Linked DNA regions of Homo sapiens: region 1 is linked to region 2. Evidence: fine-mapped expression QTL. A gene starts in region 2. The other region holds a variant in brackets. All regions are shown on one strand. Distances are between the middles of the regions. Region 1 has its middle 27 kb from the start of LINC02432. Region 2 holds the start of IL15 (interleukin 15).

Region 1 (10,054 bases), 330 kb before region 2:
GAAAGAGGTGGGAGGAGGAAAATAACGAGAGACAGTGGAGGAAAGTAGCCAATTACTTATGGTGGCGAATGACAGGATGACACAGAAGGTGGCCAGAAAGAGCCAAATTCTTATCACTACATAGCAAAATTTGAGGAAGCTTCTCATCCCAAATATACCACTTTCCCCAGTTAGTTATGTGGACTCCTCAAATTATGGTTTTTATTCAGGGCAACCTTTAAGACAGTACAGTGTGTTATGGCCCGGCGTGGTGGCTCATGTCTGTAATCCCAGCACTTTGGGAGGCCGAGGCGGGTGGATCACGAGGTCAGGAGATCGAGACCATCATGGCTAACTCGGTGAAACCCCATCTCTACACAAAAAATTAGCTGGGCGTGGTGGCAGGCGCCTGTAGTCCCAGCTACTAGGGAGACTGAGGCAGGAGAATGGTGTGAACCCGGGAGGCGGGGCTTGCAGTGAGCGGAGATTGCACCACTGCACATTAGCCTGGGCGACAGAGTGAAACAATGTCTCAAAAAAAAAAAGAGTATAGTATGATAGTTAGCTTCTCTTACCCACTAGCAATTTCAAGGTGAATATTTTGAGCTGGGTAAAAAATAATCTTTCACCTTCACTTTAATCATTGTTGTAGCAATTCTAGAGCTATCTTGTCCTTATAATTTAGCTAATGAGTTTGTGTAATTGAAAACAGCAGGGTGGAATGGAGGTAGTCAAATTTCATTAGTGACTTTGTTCCTGAGAAATATACATGTGTGTATGCTTGCGTACACACACATACACATACATGCACTTCTCATTTCATATCAGTGGAATGACAAAAAATGAAAGCTACTTTTTTGTCAGTTGTATATTAAACAGTTACAATCATTGCTTTTTAGAATTCCTTGTTTGAAAAGGCAATTAGGTGAAAATTCCTTGGCCAGGTTACAGAGGTAGATGGCAGATGGAAATATTATGGAAGCCACCAGGTAGCTTATGAAACACTAATGTTTTTATAAGTTTGTGAATGCCTTTCCAAACCCTTCAGTAAAATAAAACTTGTGGGAGGCCTTGGTAATAGAGATGGTGACAAGGGCCAAGTTTGGGTTAAGAATGCCTTTGGCTTAAACATAACAATGTAGACATGAACCCAGATTTTGACAGTTACCAGAGAGGCTGTCATTTCAAAATGCCAATAGAGACTGCCAACAGCAATCGCCGCAAGCTTCTTTGATCCAGGCCCTCTCAAATTATCTCTTAGTAATGTGCTGTCATGTGGAACAGCTGATGGAAACACTGAGCCCCAGTAAAACAATCAGGGAAGATTTCATACCACCATATCTCTGACTGGAGTTTTCTAATTCTTACAATTTTTTTTCTCTCATCAGTTTCTTGTTGTGTATGGCTCCATCTGGATGGAATCTATCTCCAAGTTTCCATATTATTGATCTATTAATTTCTAGCTTTTAGTCAACAATCTATGCCACCGTCCTCCTTGAGAAATTGCAAGTATGTGCTTTTTGTATTGGTAGTCTGCATGAGAAGTATAGAGAATTTTAGTCACTATTCTTTCACTACTGATCATTTCTATGGCACTTATCTCCTTGTGATTTCTCTGCTAGGTTTCTCCTGGTAGAGAAATCTAGCAGGAGAAATCTAGCAGGACTGATTGACACAAGATTGTCTGCAGCATTTATTGATGTTTACAGAGACTTTGACTTTGTGGATTGTATACACAAGGTCTAAGTCTCATGAACTTCTAAACTTCTAATTGACACTGAGTTACTAATGCTTCTACATAACAGGATCTTTTTTTTTTTATGAGACAGGGTCTCACTACATTGCCCAAGCTGGAGTGCAGTGCTGTGATCACAGCTCACTGTAGCCTTGACCTCCCTAGGTGTTCAGGTGATCCTCCCACCTCAACCTCCCAAGTAGGTGGGACTACAGGTGTGTGCCACCAGGCCTGGTTAATTTTTGTATTTTTTGTAGAGATGGAGTTTTGCCATGTTATCCAAGCTAGTCTCAATCTCCTGGGCTTAAGCAATTCTCCTGCCTCACCTTCCCAAAGTGCTGGGATTACAGGCATGAGCCATCACACCTGCTCCAGAACTGCATCTTAATAGCATAGACTGAACCTCTCATGAATCGTCAGAGACAGACTCGGTACCTTTTTCTTCCAAATTTGATTCTAAACAGCTTCATACTCCTTTGGAATCAAAACAATGCTTTACAGTATTTTATTACTGGTAAGTAAAATTATATAAAATAAGAGATGTAAGCCAATAAGTCTCCATTATAAAGAACTAAGTGCAAATTAGATCTTCATTAAAAATTCCTGATTTTTTCTCACTTCTTAACAAATGAATCTTCCTGGATATTTTTCCTTTTTTTTTTTTTTTTGAGACACAGTTTCACTCTGTCACCCAGGCTGGAGTGCAGTGGTGTGATCTCAGCTCACTCCAGGGTTCAGGTGATTCTCGTGCCTCAGCGTCTCTAGTAGCTGGGATTACAGGCGCCCCCCCACCATGCCTGGCTAATTTTTGAATTTTTGATAGAGACAGGTTTTCTCCATGCTGGCCAGGCTGGGCGTGAACTCCTGACTTCAAGTGATCTGCCTACCTAGGCCTCCCAAAGTGCTGGGATTATAGGCAGGAGCCACTGTGCCCAGCCCCTGGATATTTTTCTATAATTTACCTTGTAGATAGATATTTACTCAAAATAAATGCCTGTGGAATCAGAAGAACCACACTTTTAATCCTTAATTGAAATAAAAGTACATAATCTTTCAAAATAAATATTATAATGCAAATACTGACAATTAAGAAAGAAAAAAACCTTCTTTTAGTTTTAAAGCAGTATGTTTGGTATGGCACTCTAAATCCTCAAGTACCACAAGGGACAAGTAATTTCCCAAAAAGCTTTACAACCTCCCAAACCAGTTTTGATCCATGCAGGGAACTGAAGGCCAGAACATTAGCTTGGCTTCCTCCATGAGCTCAGTTGTATCCCAGGCATGGGAAACAGAGAAAGTATAAAACACAATCTCAGTCCCAAAGGACTTTCCAACTTTAGTGAGACGGCAAGATCAACTGCCACATAAAAACTGTATATAACACAGGCCCCTTTTAGAAAAATGAATTTAAAAACTACAAATACAAAATTGGGGACAAGAGTAAATACTCACCATCAGAAGAAAAATTCTGATAAATTATTGGAAGCTGGGAGATTTGGGTGCCTTGTTTCTAGATATTTCTGCACAATGTACTAGAATTGCTTACATAGAAGTGTGTCCTGAGTGCAGCTGGGCTTCCCCTCCTCATCTGGAACATTCCATGACAGAAATTCCCAGCCCTCACAGGAGTCTACGCAAGCGAGAAGCTCTGGGATTTTGGCTTCACTAGCTTCCCAAGGCACCTGCCTCTTCATATACCTTCGTAATAGTCATCAAGAGAACTGTAAAAAACCAGCAGCATCAAGAAACCTGTTAAACATTAAAAAAAATCATCATATTTGAAATTCTTTCTGAATTTATCTATTTTAAACCTGGAGAGTGAGGATGTATAATTATCTTAGTCTTTTTACGCTGCTATGGCAAAATATCACAGTCTGGATAATTTATAAACAGTAGAAATCTATCTCTCATGGTTCTGGAGGCTTAGAATTCCATGATCGAGGCACTTGCAGAATTGATGTCCGGCGAGGGCTGTTCTCTGCTTCCAAGATGGCGCCTTGTTGCTGCATCCTCCAGAGGGGAGGAATACTGTTGCCTCACAAGGTGGAGAAGGGATAGAAGGTCAAGAGAGCACTCCCTTCAACCCTGAGCCTTTTCTTTTCTTTTCTTTCTTTTTTTTTTTTTTTTTCGAGA[C/CA]AGAGTTCTTGTTGCCCAAGCTGGAATGCGACGGTGTGATATCGGCTCACTGCAATCTCTGTCTTCTGGGTTCCAGAGATTCTCCTGCCTCAGCCTCCCAAGTAGCTGGGATTACAGGCGCACACCACCACGTCTGGCTAATTTTTTGTATTTTTAGTAGAAAAGGGATTTCACCATGTTAGCCAGGTTGGTCTCAAAACTGCTGACCTCAGGTGATCCTCCCGCCTTGGCCCCCCAAACTGCTGGGATTACAGGCGTGAGCCACCGCGCCTGGCCAACCCTGAGCCTTTTCACAAGGGTGCCAACCTCATTCATGAGGGCAGAGTCCCCTAATCACCTCTCAAAGGTAACACCTCTTACTATTGTTACATTAGGGATTAAGTTTCAACATAAAATTTGGAGGGGACACAATCATTCAAACTACAGCAATAATGAAAAAGAGGCTCGACAATTTTTCTTCTTTTTAATATGTGTCACTTGAGTTTCCAGCACAACAAGATGACTCAGAACAGGAATAGGGTTATGTGAATGTCAATTTCTGTAGCCCAGCGTGAGTACCTCCTTTTTAAAATGAAAATCCCACTGGGGAATCTAGAAATGTAGCAGATCAGACAAATTATGCCTTTCTTATTTTTATATAAAGTTGGATTCTACAAGTAGACTCCAAAAGATTCTACCTATATTTTATTTCCCAAAGACTCTACATGTGAAATTCCTACATTTATTCATTCATCAGATATTTATTGAGCACCTTTTACATGGCACACACCACTTTACCTGCTGAGACTGAGTCATGCATAAAATGGATAAAGTCACCTCTCACAAAGATACAATTAAAAATATCGTGCGTCATGTGGCAAGTGCCTAAAAGAAAAATAAGAGGACAAAGGATAATGGACTAGGGGACTAGGAGGGCCTCTCTTCAGGGTGCCAATGAGAAGAAAGCCCAAGCAGGAGTGGGAGAGCATTCCAGTCAAAGGGATCAGAAAGTGCAAAGTCCCTGAGTCTGGGGCACACTTAGTATGTTGAAGTAATGCAGGAAGATCACTGTGGCTGGAGTAGAGAAGGAAAAGGGAAGAGGCAATGAGGTTAGGAAAGTAGCTAGAGATAAGATTATGCAGGGCCTTGTAAATAACAATTAGGAATCCGTAAGAGTAACATGGTCTGACTTGGGCTTTGAGATGGCCACTCTGACTGTTGTGTGAAGAGCAAGAGTAAGGAACCAGAGGCCAGTGAGGAGGCCATCACAAGGGCCAGGCAAGAGGCAGTGGGGCATGGACTAGTGATCTGGTAACAGGGATGTTAAGAATTGGTTGAATTCTGTGTTTTCTAACATAGTGTCTGGATCCCAGCTCCAAAGGGACTGACTGACAAATTTTCAAGGAGGTTAATTAAGGAACCCTACTGTTTACTACACTAATAGTTATCCAAGTACAGGGGCCAGCTGCATCAGAAGCTCCCACGGCTTTTGTTAAAAAAAAAAAAAAAAAGATTCCAGGGCCTTGTCACAGACCTACATAGAATCTCTGGCAAAGGAGGCCCAGGAATATGAGGTTTTAACAAACTCCTTGTGTGGTTCTTAATATGGGATAAATTTTGATCCTGGTCCTTATGGAAGAGAGTGCTGAGCTCTTGCAAAGGTTTGTGTCTTGTTAGACATTTCAAGTCCATACTTTAAATATCTCCAGGCTAGAACTGAGACTATATTGTGAATTTAACAGTGAGAATTACAAAAGCTCACTGTTTTTGCCTGAACTCTCAATATGAGATGTCTCCATCAAGCTGTCAGATTTTAGCCTTATCAGGGGTTTCATGAAACTTTTTGTCATTTTACATTGATTTTCACATTCCTGAACCTTCTGAGTAAACTTGTCTTTTAGCTTTAGAGATTATAAATACTAATAATTGAACCTAGAATATTTTAAAGCTTCTATCTGTATGAGCCAAAAGTGTGAAGTGTGCTTAAGAAAGGACAGAGGGAGTTTGGCAACTCTTTCTAAAGCTATTTTTGCTTTTTTATACATTAATAAGTGATATGCTCTCTCTTTACAAACTATTAGTGAAGTAAAATAGATTTCTCTGGCTTCCAAAACAGAGAAAATGATACTTTGAGATGAGGCAGTTAGAAATGAGGCATGACACAATAGCTAATAGATTTTGTTTTCTGTCTTGCTTTCTTTCCCTCTCCTACCTTTCTATATTGCTTCATACTGAACTATCTTTAGATATAAGAGTGTATACTAAACTCTGTTTACTCTAAAATCCTTTACCATTGTATACACTTGCATTATAGTAAGAGTATGAGCATCATTTTGTATTCTATGTTTTTCCAGTATCATATATACAGTAAATCTATTATGTCAGTCCCTGAAATTACCATTTTTTGTTTGTTTTGAGATAGGGTATCACTCTGCCGCCCAGGCTGGAGTGCATTTGTGCTATCTAGGTTCACTGCAGCCCAACCTCCTGGGCTTAAGCAATCATCCCACCTCAGCTTCCTGAGTAGCTGGGACCACAGGCGTGCATCGCCACACGTGGCCAATTTTTGTATTTTTTGTAGAGACGAGGTTTTGCCATGTTGCTCAGGCTGGTTTCAAACTCCTGAGCTCAAGCAGCCCACGTGCCTCGGCTTCCCAAAGTGCTGGGATTACAGGCATGAGCCACTATGCCTGGCCTGAAATTACAATTCATAATGGCTTTATAGTAAAGCATTGTAATACTATATTGTACTTCATATAACAATTTATTTACTGCTTGCCATTTGTACTTGAGTTTTTCCAGTTTTTCAGTATATAATAATGAAATATGACATGGCTCTAAGCATCTTTATGTAAATTACTTCATTGTCTTTGTGTCTATTTTTTTCATGAAATATTCCCAAATAAATAATTATTGAACTAAAATGTAATAAAGGATATTTTTAAAATGGTAACCAGCTGCCAGACTGTTTCTCAGAAAGCTTGAACTGATATTCCATACCATGGATAATATTTTATCATAGCAATACAAAGTTTAAGCACTTAAATTTTTTTTTTTTTTGGCCAGTTTGATAGATGTAACTTACTCTATTATTTAAATCTTTTCATCTTCTCTGCGGTTAAAATAGAATGCTTGTAAAATTGGGACATGAATTTAGGGCAGAATCAGAGTGACAGCTTTCCGACAGATGACCTCTCCCTCATCAGTGTTATTTTCCAGTTTCTTTGGCTCATTTTGCAGTGAACAACCTAACAGGGTGAAAGTTCCAGATACTCTGACAAGGTGATGGTTTTGAAGAGAAGTTCTGCTGCTGGGCAGAAGAGGGCACTGTTTGTTTGTACTGAGGCAGAACAAACCCTGACCTGTTTAGAGAGAGCAATCACTGTCAGAGCCAGCTCTTCACTTCACACTTGTGGTCCTGTGACCACTGTGGTGGCGACCGCAGCTCCTTCCATGCATGACAAGTCCTGTTAAGCATTGAATTTGTTATTATGCACTGAGGTCTGTGAAGTTCCTGCCTCCTAGAAGACCAATGGAATCATTTACACTGCTGTCACCGAGGAGTTAGCACCCAGGCAGTTGCCTACCACAAGAAGGAGGGCTGGTTTGCTCCAGGAGACACCAGCCGGTCCGGACACCTGCAAGACTCTGGGGAACCACAAGGTTAATTAGAATTTGATGAGCAGTGAAGGTCAGGAATTTAGAAAGGCTGGAATAGCAACCAGACTAGGATTGTAAGAACATTTTTGTTAAAATTAAGAAGTAATACCCAAGATTTTTAGGCCAACCACATTTCTGTATTTCTTGTTTTTTTTGTTGTTGTTTATTTTTTCTAGTTAAAAAAAGTCACATAGGAAATGTACAAATGCATTATTATTACAAAAGATTAAATCACACTATGAAGTGCTGAGCAATCTGTATTCTCTCTTTGGCCTCTTCATTCCACTCACACTCCCTTTCTCAAAGGCCACTGCTGTTAATAGTTTGATGACTTTGTTGTGGGCCTTTACAGACACAGGTGCATACACTGTACACATATATCTTTTTTTCTCTCCAAGAGTGGGATCTTGCCATACATATTATCCTGAAACTAGTTTTTTCCCCCACTTAACCATAAATCGTGTCACTGTTTCCATGAGTTCAAATTGGTCTTCTTTTGCATAACTATCTGTAATATGGATTATCATGAATTAATTAACCATTATACTGATGAAACATTAAGGTTTTCAATTTTCACTATTACAAATAATGCAAAGTGAATGTTCTTGTGTTTGTAACTCTGTGCACAGACTTCAGTGTTTCTGTAGGATGGATGCCAGATGTAAAATTGCAAGGTCAAATTTTATGAGCACTTAAAGTTTTAATAGATGTGGTCAAATTGCCCTCCAAAAAGGGAGAAGGTAACTTCTATTTATTTATTTTTACTATACTTTAAGTTCTAGAGTACATGTGCCAACGTGCAGGTTTGTTACATATGTATACATGCGCCATGTTGGTGTGCTGCACCCATTAACTCGTCATTTACATTAGGTATATCTCCTAATGCTATCCCTGCCCCCTCCCCCAACCCCACGACAGGCCCTGGTGTGTGATGTTCCCCACCCTGTGTCCAAGTGGGGAGAAGGTAACTTCTTAAAGTTATTGATATGTGCAGTCACGAGAGTGTTTGATGGTGCTAAACAGAAGAAACTCTTATGTTGTAGGCCAGAACCTTCAGTGGGCTGATTATATTTGTACAGTTGCCTTTGCTTCACTCCAGTGAAACCATTATGGACTCTTTCCTAAATGAGAATCTTGGGGTTAGTATAAAGACCTTCTAAACTGCAATGGGCCTCTGTCATATTTTTCTCAGGTTTGGGCAGAGGGTTAGGATAAAGGAAGGAGCAAAGTGTCTTCTTGACCTGCAGAAGAGGTTCGGGGGAAATGCCTTACACATCAGCAGGGGCCATGAGAGCAGGTCTTATCTGTGATGCCTCATATCTGATTCTGCTCTTGTCTGCCTACTGTCCACACTATTCTTCGAATCATAATTAGATCACATCGCATTCTGCAGAAAGCCTTCTAGTGGGCACCCCTGCAGGTACCTTGGCTTATTAGGCCCCTTTACACTCTGACCTCTTCCCCTGAGACATCATATCCAACTAGGCTGCCTTGTTCTTCCTGCCCCAACCCTCACCTCTCAGCCCACTGGCTTCATTTTGGCTCTAAACACACCAACTGAGAAAGTGAAGGGACTTCAAGTAGATGTCCCGGAGGGCTCTGAAATGTGCCCTCTACTTTGGGAAGCCTGATAAATCTAACAGAATGCACTGAATCTGATTGGGGCCAGGAACTGGGAAGAACAATGAAAGGGCTAAGTGTTCCTGAGGTAGAGCCCTGAGAGCATGGTCTAAGGGCTGCGCCAGTGTTTCCCTGGACCAGATGTGTGCCGGGGGAAGAGATTTTACCTGGGGACCAACAGGGAGGAAAATAGGCCACAGAAAAAAGAGGCCAGTAGGGACTGCTAGTATGGACATGCAAAGTAGCCAGGAAAGGAGTTGCAACCAAGGAAACTGCAGGTGAAGGAAGTCCCAACAAGGAAATCTCTGAAGAGACCTTGAAAGAGCCTCATGTAGGAAAGGGATAGCTTAACATCTGTCTACTCAGCCACGACTTCAGCTTTAACCATCTGGTAGGCCCCCAAAGCCCAAAGAAACTTCCCAGCCAAGTAACTTTGCTAACTCTTTCTCTTTATGCACACCTCTTTATCTCCCAGCCCAGCCTTCACAAAGCAGAATACTGATTCTGTATTGTGGGAGCAGATGAGCAGAGAGAGCAGACAGCAGGAGGACTGGGCTCACTGGCCACCCCTCCACCACCCGAGCCATGTGAGCTGGAGAGGACATTAAAAGCAAAAATAAATAGAGAAATCTAGAGGCTGGGTTTCTCCAAGAGACTGGACTGTCAAACTTCCTCATTGAGACTGTGCTTTACACAGGTGAGCAGAAGGTTGCATCCTCTGAGAGTTGCTGGGAAGTTAGGGACTTGCCCAAGCCTTGGTTCAGTTGCAGAGTACTCCCACTCCATCGTGTGCGAAGCACACTTCTCAATCTTGGCTGTGTATTAATGTCACCTGGGAAACTTTCAAAAATCCCAATGCCTGGGCTATGCTACAGTCCAAATAAATCACAACCATTGAGGGTAGGGTCTAGGCATTAACATCTTTAAAGAGCCCACATAAATTCAAGG
Region 2 (10,054 bases):
CCTCAGCCTTGGTCCCTGTCACCACAGCATCAGCAGAGAAGGTTGACATGGCAGAGACTGAGAAACATAGGGAGGGAGATAGCTGTGTTTATGTGAAGATTATATAATTCAGGATTTGGGTAGTGAGATCCTTTCACACAATTGTACCCTACACTTTGTGTTAACCTGGTACCCCATTTTTTTACATCTCATTGTGTGTTTTAAATTCATTTAATATACCATGTTATTTGGGCATCTTTATTTGGTCTGCAAGTTTTTCTATTCTGAGACTTTTAGGGTAGTAACTGGAGGCTACCATTTCATCAAGGTAATTTCCCACACAACCATAATAACAAAATCAATGATATTTTAGCCAGTGATCAGAACCCTATATTGATACTTTAACCAGTAATTAGAACTAATTTTAATATATATTATGAAGAAATTTTAGTTGACAATTTAATGAAAAGTGATTGTAGGATTAAACACACATAAACCACAGAATGAAGTTACACAAATATACAAATTATCAAATCATTTCATGATAATGGAAAGAGCTTTTTTACATACATACATATATACACACATACATACACACATATCTATAAGTTTCTAGATTTTGATTCTAGCAAGTATTTAAACTATGAAACAAGAGGGTTTTTTTTAACCAAGATTAATATAACAAATATTTATTGAAGGCCAACTATTTGCTAGCCATAGAGTCAAAACCAATGCCAGTTTAACTTTGTTAACATAAACCTATTATTGGTATTGACTTGATTTACACTTTTTGTAAAGGTTATTATGTGTTGTAAAAAATGCGTGAATTTTAATCATAGAACAAATTCAAGGAATATGTATTTGCCATGTTTTAGCCAATATATGTGAAGAGAAGTAAAATTCCTTTTTACAATTTGTCATTAAAATAAATGCTGACAAGATCCATTACATACATTTATAATATACTCTCAGATTATAAATCTAAATAGGTTTATTAATGTTTTGTAACTAGATTTTAATTGTTAAGGTCAACATTAAATGACTGTTCAGAATAGTACTGGTAGCATATGAACTTGTCACTTTTTTCTACTTAAGCCCCTTCCGCCCTACATTAAGTACCAATGCATTTAAGATAACATGTACTTTTAAATATATTAAAAATTAAGTATGTTATTGTGATGGTTAACATTGAGTGTCAACTTGATTGAATTGAAAGAAGCAAAGTATTACCCTTCGGTGTGTCTGTGAGGGTGTTGACAAAGGAGATTAACATTTGAGTTAGTGAACAGAGAGAGGCAGACCCACCCTTAATGTGTAGGCACCATCTAAATAGCTGCCAGCACAGCTAGAATAAAGTAGGCAGAAAAACAAGCAAGGTTTATACTTGCTCAGTTTTCCAGCCTTCATCTTTCTCCCGTGCTGGATGCTTCTTGCCCTCAAACATCAGACTCGAAGTTCTTCAGCTTTTGGACTCTTGGACTTACATCAGTGGTTTGCCAGTGACTCTCAGGCCTTAGGCCACAGGCTGAAGGCTGCACTGTTGTCTTCCCTACTTCTGAGGTTTTGGGACTTAGACTGATCCACCACAGGCTTCCTTGCTCCTTAGTTTGCAGACGGCCTGTCATGGAATATTACCTTGCGATCATGAGTCAATTCTCCTTAATAAACTCCCTTTCATATATACATATATTTTATTAGTTCTGTCCCCCTAGAGAACCCTGACTAATACAGTTATTATTGTTCTTAATCTCCAGCTTGAAACTAGACATCTTTTCTCCTTGTTTGTCATGGGTACACTCTGACATTTCAGTTCAAAGTCACCCATCTCTATCAGAATCTGCCAGCTCCTAGTTCCTCTGTTTCAAACCTGCAGCAATGTTCTGCCAGCATTTTGTCAGTCACTTTATTCAAATAACTTATGTTAGTAGCAGGGCTGCAATATCTATTGCAGTTTCATTACAGAAACTTAAGATGAGAAAGCAGAAATTCAAGGAAAACTGAAAAGTTTCCTGCCTGGTGGTGACTAAAGTTACCCTGAAGCAAACAAAATTGGACTAAGACATACTGTCTGGGGGTCCACGCTTCTTTCCTTATGAATTCAGTTTTAGAAACAGTGGAGAATGGCTGCCAATTTAAAGGCACCAGAGAGTAGGAATGTGTATTCAAGCCAGACTGTCTGAGTTCAAATCCTTGCTGGGTCAGTCAATTTCCATGTGATCTTAGGCAAGCTGTATAATTCTTTGGGCCTTGGTTTTCCCATTTGTAAAATGGAGATAATAATAGTTTATATCTCATAGCTTTGCTGTGAGGATTTAATAAGTTAACATTTGTGTTTAGCACAGCACTGGAGAAATAGCAGATTGGAGGAACTACAGAAGTCCTAACTAATACTGTTGTGGTTCTGAAAAAGCAGCAACTTGAGGAGCTCTTGAAAACCTAAATAGTATTTAAGGCCAAGAGTATCTGTCTATTGTCAGGATCACCAGAAAAAAATGTGAGAAGCAACTTCGAGGTAATGCTGCATTTCAGCATGCTTTACCCCGAATGGAAATGTAGAGAACCCAGGCAGGCCATGTTTTCCAAAGAGCAGGGGATCAACTTGTTCTTGATGGGAGGTTTAAATCTTAGTAAAACCATAAATAAGGCCACAGTCATGGACTTTGAACACTAAATCAGATGAAATAACTTGTAACTTCTTCCATGTAATCACAAAAGCTAGAAAATAAATTATTAGTAATTTATTTTAAAGATGATTGCCCAATTGACATTGTTTTTGAAAAAAGATATTAAAAATTTATTAAACTATAATTTTATTGTTAATTATTTGAATTCAGGAAGATTATTATGGTCACTTCTATGAGATTTAGTTAATCTCCACTTCTTTCTACCCTGTAATTTTATTAGTTATCTTAAGACAGTTTCAAATTATTTCATCAATCTTCATCTTTGCTTTTAATTTATGCAGCAGAATTTACTTGTTCATTGGTATGAGTAATTTTCAATATTTTGCCAAACAGCCTGTGGCAACTGAAAACACAAGTTGCATACATTAGACTTTTCTTTTTGAGTGCAATGCAACAAAAACAAATTATGTTGCAAACCCAACTTCATTGAACTGCAGGCACTCATAACTAATTAAAAATACTTTTAAAACATCTGTATTTATGAAAACAAATTTGACCAACATATTTGGGAGGCAAATAGTAGAGCAAAGCATATCTTATGACTATAATAATTTTTAGTTGTACTTTACTGTTATTTATGTTTTTTATCTCCCTACTCTGACAAAATGCTTTATATATCATTTAGTCCATCTTGTTCTAGAACCTACTATAGTTGAAACCCAATAAACAGTTGTAGACCAATTTTCTTACTGTTATATACTCAGATTATGCCTTAAGTTCACCCTACAAGTAAACTTTCCGTCAATTTCATAGTGTTGTGAAAACTCTCTAGTAGCTCAGAACGTTCTTGGTGGTCTCAATATATTAAAAGTATGCAGTCAGATACTGATGGCCCTGAGTCCTGCAGACAGCTAACAAAGCTGAAGCCCACAGGCTAGTGAGCACCAGCTGAGAGCACTTTCTATAGAGTTTGTGGGCAGTCCAAGAGAGACAGGATCTGAGATGTGATGATATGTCCTCTGGCAGCAGCAATATCTGATATTGAGCTCTGCTAGGTGGTGCTGAGCGTGGACACCTGCTTCCTTCACCGGCTGCAGAGAACACAGTATCCATTAAAGGAGCTGAAAGAGGTGCTAGAGGAGTTTACATGGCAGGAGTCCAGGAAGCTCTGCAACAGTCCAAAATGAGGTTGGGACACATGATACACTTGTTCATCCCTATTCTCTATCTTCACACATATGCATATCAGTCCTTCCGTGGCTGCTATATTCTTGTGGTGAGATCCAAACCAGCTGCAGTCTTGCTCTCCCAGTGCATGCTCATTCTGCAAATCAGAGCTTCAATGTATTGCTATGAAAAATTCTGACTGGTCTTGAAATCCATTGACACCATCACAAGAAAATTCAACATGACATCGTCATGAACAGAAATGGATGATGGCTTCATATTCTTAAATATAATTTCCAACTATGGTGAAATTTTGAATGGTTGTAAAAACTGTTTTTGCATTTTTATACCTCACTTATTTTGTTAATGGAGACTATCTAGAGTTTGATGTAATTCTCATCAAAAAGTCCATCAGTAATTATTTCAAATATAAAACTGATATCAAAAAATTGAGTTAATGAAAATAAACTCAAATTTTTCATAAAAATATGAAATTATATTATACGGAACTTTATGTACATGGAAAGTGAATAATTTCTATTATTTTTCTATTTGATATTTATCATATTTATGTAATTAAAAACATAATTAAATTTTAAACTAAATTAAACTGCGCTCCAGGAAGACATCATTTTCTCTGAACCATGACTCTGAAAATTTGGAAAGCACCGTACAAGAGGGATTTTCAGTGATTCACAAGAGTGCAAGATTCTGCAAAGTACTTTCAAAACTAAGCGTGAGATCTTTGCTACTGCCTTTATGGCATGCAAATCACTCAGCCTCAACTCAGTTCCTTCCTCCAATGTAAAAATACTACAAGAACAACATCTCACGCTTCCATCAAATGGGACCATGTGTGATATTTTACACTGGACTACACAATAGGCTGGAAAAGTGATCCGCAGAGAGGCTCATTGCTCTAAGTTCACTCCCTGTACCAACTGTCTTGCACAAAGCTGCCACCCGGGTGTCTTCTTCCAACATTTCCCCTAGTTGGACTTCAAAGTTTCCTTCTTGCAGCCTGTGCGGGGACCAAGAGGCCGGTCTAGAGTAGCCGCCCAGCATCCAGATCCGACATCCTTTTCCCTTTCCTCAGGAAGACTTGGATGCGCGCCAGCCCAGCCCGGGTCTCCAGGTTCAGCTGCGGAAGCTTCCCACATGGTGCCCGTCGCTTGGGATGCGGCTATCCTTGTGCCTTCTCTGCAGGTGTCCCGGCAGGTAGAGGAGGAGACCGGTGGCTGGTGTTCCTGCAGGGCGGGGCTGGGGCTCCTCGATGTCCTTGCGCTTGCCCTGCAAGTTCTGCGCCCCAGGCCCCGGCAGGGACGGAAACAGGCCGGGAAGCAGTGACACCTGGGGCAGTCAGTCATCCAGGAGCCGCCGCCACCCGCCCCACCCCCAGTCTCCGCGGGAGGTGTTTGTCTTCGCCTATGCTCCCGGCTCTTTCTCTTTCACTTTTCTTTTCGCCAGGGGTTGGGACTCCGGGTGGCAGGCGCCCGGGGGAATCCCAGCTGACTCGCTCACTGCCTTCGAAGTCCGGCGCCCCCCGGGAGGGAACTGGGTGGCCGCACCCTCCCGGCTGCGGTGGCTGTCGCCCCCCACCCTGCAGCCAGGACTCGATGGAGGTACAGAGCTCGGCTTCTTTGCCTTGGGAGGGGAGTGGTGGTGGTTGAAAGGGCGATGGAATTTTCCCCGAAAGCCTACGCCCAGGGCCCCTCCCAGCTCCAGCGTTACCCTCCGGTCTATCCTACTGGCCGAGCTGCCCCGCCTTCTCATGGGGAAAACTTAGCCGCAACTTCAATTTTTGGTTTTTCCTTTAATGACACTTCTGAGGCTCTCCTAGCCATCCTCCCGCTTCCGGAGGAGCGCAGATCGCAGGTCCCTTTGCCCCTGGCGTGCGACTCCCTACTGCGCTGCGCTCTTACGGCGTTCCAGGCTGCTGGCTAGCGCAAGGCGGGCCGGGCACCCCGCGCTCCGCTGGGAGGGTGAGGGACGCGCGTCTGGCGGCCCCAGCCAAGCTGCGGGTTTCTGAGAAGACGCTGTCCCGCAGCCCTGAGGGCTGAGTTCTGCACCCAGTCAAGCTCAGGAAGGCCAAGAAAAGGTACCGCAGCTCCCCACTTCCTAACTGCTCCCGTCCCAAACTCATTGTGGGCCGGTGCAGATGTCTGTGCGTGCGCGTCTATCCCTACCTTTGCAAAATCAAATTATCGCCCTCTTCTTTGCTTGCACACGTCTTCTGGGAGAGAAATTTGCAGGAATGGTCAGTGCTTGGCAGTCAGGCCTGGGTCTGTATTGGTTCCAACTCTGCGCCAGCCAGTTATCTCTTAGAGAAGCGATAGTGTATCTAGAATGTCGAAGGAACTTGGAAAAAATACGAGCGAATTTCACTGAAATAAAATCATTATTCAAGGTGGCTTTTAAATGAAAATCCAGCCAATTTTTTCAAGTGTTATTAAGACCGCATGTAGCAAGGGTATATAGTTCATTTGACTTTATGTAATTCCATGCATTAAAAACTATGTTGACTTCAAAGTATGTCTAAACCAAACTAATTCTTAAATGATGCTTACAACAGATTCTTAAATAGGATGAGTCAGCAATTTCAAAACTGGAAGTAAAGTGGTGGTCACCAGCTAGTTTCCATTATATATTTTTAAACTACTATCTAATATTATGATACTGGTGGTGGCCAACTAAGTGGACGTCATCCTTATCTTGTCAGTGTGGTGAAAGAGGCCATATTAGCTAGGCTGAATTTTTGCTCAGGTATTACAGAATAAACTGGTGATTATGCATCCTGCCATGTAGAGGTTATAAGGTGAACCATTCTACTGAAAGCATCAAGATACAATACACTTTTGGAAGGCCGAGGCGAGAGGATAGCTTGAGACCAGGAGTTCCAGTTTATAGTGAGCTATATGATCTGCCACTGCACTCCAGCCTGTCAAAAAATAAATAAATGAATAAAAAAGATATAATACAGGTTAAATTTTTAAACTCCTGTTGTTTTCGTGTGAAGTAATGTGGCCAACAGAGCAAGGAAATACATGGGAAGGAACATAAAGACATATAAAGAGAAGAACTGAAAATACAGCAAAAGCCATTTAGATTTAAAAAGTGAAGAAAAAGCTAGTTTTGCTTAAAGTTAACAAGTATCATAGAGATCTTAAGGTTTGTTATGATTGTCTTAGTTTCGGGTCCTTATTCGTGTAAAATTCTCACAGAATTTTAGTCAATCAGAAAAGTCTCTCCTGCAGTATCATCTGCTTTGCAACAGTGACAGAGAAGGGTCAGTTGACCATTGGTCTGGAACTTCTGATAGGCAGGGTGTTCCCATACTTTTGGTTTCACTGTTCCTTGCTGATTTGGAGTGGCAACTCCAGAACCTGATTGGAAGCTATAGTTCTGGTTGGAATTTTCCTGCAGACTACTGGTGATTAAAATGATGCTCTTTTGTTTTAATCCATGAAATTAATGTAGCCAATGTCAACAGCTATATTGCAAGGCACAATGTTTATAAATTTCCTTGGGGGATGGAGAAAACAGTGGTTTAAGGTTTATCGAAATAGATTTTGGAAGTGGAAGGTTTTAAAGCCTACGGGATACTCCATCTCAGATTTGCTGCCTCTGATGAATTTCAGGACAGCTAGAAGAGCAGCCCTGAAATGCTGGGTACATGTGGATTTTTCTCAGGAAAATATCCGTAACTTTGATCAGCTTTTTAAATGGGTCTCTGACCCAAAAGAGTTTTAAATCTTTTGAAAATATAGACTACTGTCCTTTTCCCCTCATCTCTCCTGGAGTTTAATGTTGAGTTCTGCTCATTGTGTTAACTATTTTTCTGAAGGTTAGCTGATCATAATACAGAGTTCTGTCTTCAGACCTATAACTTAAGTTATGAGAAACAGTATGAATAATAACTAACATTGTTGAGTTCTTATTATGTATCAGACATTGTTCTAAGGATGTATTTTTTAAAAACATCGTAATAAACTTATGTGGTAGGCAATATATTTTACAGCTGAGGAAATTATCAAGGTCACAGAGCTAGAAAGTGGTAGAGTTGGAATTCCAACTGAGACAAGTTTAAGACTGGTGGTATTTATGGAGGATGGTATTATTTGCATACAAATATTTCGTACAATTTGACAGTGATAATCCCTACTTATTTTCAGGCAGCGTTGTAATGGTAGAATGCCGGTTTTAAAGTAATGTTTGTATGGTACTTGTGCAATTGACATTATTATATATTTAAAGATTATCTTTATAATCAAATAATATTCATTTGAGTGTCAAATATGTGTTTGGTATATTGGAGAAATTTCCTTTATGGTCCCTGAATGAAAACATTTGTCTAATCTGCATCACTTTCTGCTGAAAGAGCCTGACAAATAGTAGGCAAATGTGGATTGATCTAGATATCTGTCTCTGCCTATCTATGTATCCCTTCTTCCATACAACTAGAAGTCTGGGATTCATGGAGAGGTCAGAGAAGAAGAGTTTCCCATAATATCCCAACTGGAGATGATATAGTTAACTATTTGGGACATCCTCTCTTCAGAAGGCATTATGGTAGAAGGTTTGGCAAGAAGCCACTTCTTTTGCTCGATATTAGCTCTTTGATTTACTTACCCGTTGATTACAGTAACTGCATGAGACTACTGACACTGAACATTGCTTAAATACTTGCTGCTGTCCTATAGGAATGGGTTGGATGGAAAAATTCCATAGAGGAGTTGAAGGAAAAATTGTTATTTTAGTGAGTACTGGAATGCACTAACACCTATTTGATGGTAAATTTCACTAATTAAATACTATCAACTATATGTCTATATGTGTGCATATATGACTATATGTGTATATATACTGTGTATGTGCATATATGTGTGTGTATGTATATATTGTACTGTACTATTTGTTAACAGCTGTGGGCAGACAAGGTTTACTTTTTACTCAGCTTCCAGACTGTATTGAATATATAAACATAAGAAGCTAAGAAATCTTGACAGAAAGCCTGAAGGACAAATTATTGTTATTAACAGTGCCATTCCAGTAGGAACCTAATGTGAATTTGAAAGTTTCAAAGAGGAAGCCTCTGCTATGTTTCAGCCACCATACTGGCACTTCATCTGTATGTCCTCATTGAATTTGAATAACCATTGCATTTTTATCCTGAATTTACAAAGAAAAAAAAAAAAAGACATGCAGAGTTTTGCTTGCATTAGGACACAACTAGGTAAGACAGACACTCCACTGAGATTTATCTTGATTCTAATGTTAATGCTCCTTTTCGGATATCATATGCATTCTCTTCTAAGAAAACTCAGGTGTTCAGTGTACTGACAACTAAAATGCTGCTATCCTTACCTTGAAATAGACCCTGGTCACCATTTGGGGTGATTTAATGCTATTTATGAATTTGCCTATGTCAAAGAATATTGCCCTTTTTTAAACAAACAAAAAAAAAAGTTGTTTAGTGCTGGAGTCAGAAAGAGGAGAAAAAGAGGCTCTTTAATCTCAGTTTAGTTCAATAATATTATTTGTCCACATTTCACATCCAGAGCCAGGGTATTTGTATGCATTTATTTTATAGTGTTTCATCCCACTGCAGGGGCAGAAGACTCTATGTAGACCGTATAAAAATGGATTTTTAAAAAGTCTGCATGTAATACACAGTTGTTTCTTCTCTAAATGCTAATAGTTCCTCCAAGTGCTGACAGGGTGCAGACAAAATCAGGAAAGTGACAAATTATTTTGTGAAATGAGGGAATTGAAACTGAAAATGGTTGTAGAACAGGAAAATATGATGGTTGTAAGGTTGATGGCGGTGGTGGTGGGGGTAAGCTCTGCTTATCATTGTGACACACGAAAGGAGCCCAGAGAGGGTCTTTGGTCCCTTATATCACTGAATGCTACTTCTCCTTCCTGGGTATTTTGCTTATGTGCCTTCTAATAGAAATCTGACAAAGTAGTCCTTGCACACTGTTAGCACTGACCTCTAAAATTATCAAATGATTTTTTCTTAATTGAACATTTTACTGTTAAAGATTTTCTATTTTCCTGACTCATCTGCAACAAAAATAAGTACATAAAACTTGATTTTTTATTTGAAGGATTTTCGTTGTGAAAATTATTCTAGCTTATGTTATTTAAAACACTATCATTATAAAATTAATCAAAGGAACCATTAATTTTTGATAAGTGATTATTAAGCATAAAACTAAAACATATATACCCAAAGGATTATAAATCATGCTGCTGTAAAGACACATGTTTATTGCAGCACT

What was found. PIP is the estimated chance that this variant, and not a neighbour inherited with it, causes the effect.
Region 1: its variant is fine-mapped to the expression of IL15 in whole blood (INTERVAL, PIP 0.93).

What each region holds. Positions count from the first base shown.
Region 1 is chr4:141,300,197-141,310,250 of GRCh38, forward strand. No RefSeq gene overlaps it. Among named protein-coding and RNA genes, the nearest start is that of LINC02432, 27 kb to the right of the region's middle. The variant C/CA (reference allele first, on the strand shown) is at 3,848.
Region 2 is chr4:141,631,357-141,641,410 of GRCh38, forward strand. It overlaps IL15 (interleukin 15), which reads left to right and starts at 5,227. Exons shown (of 8, transcript NM_000585.5): 1 at 5,227-5,392. RefSeq lists an enhancer at 5,140-5,229.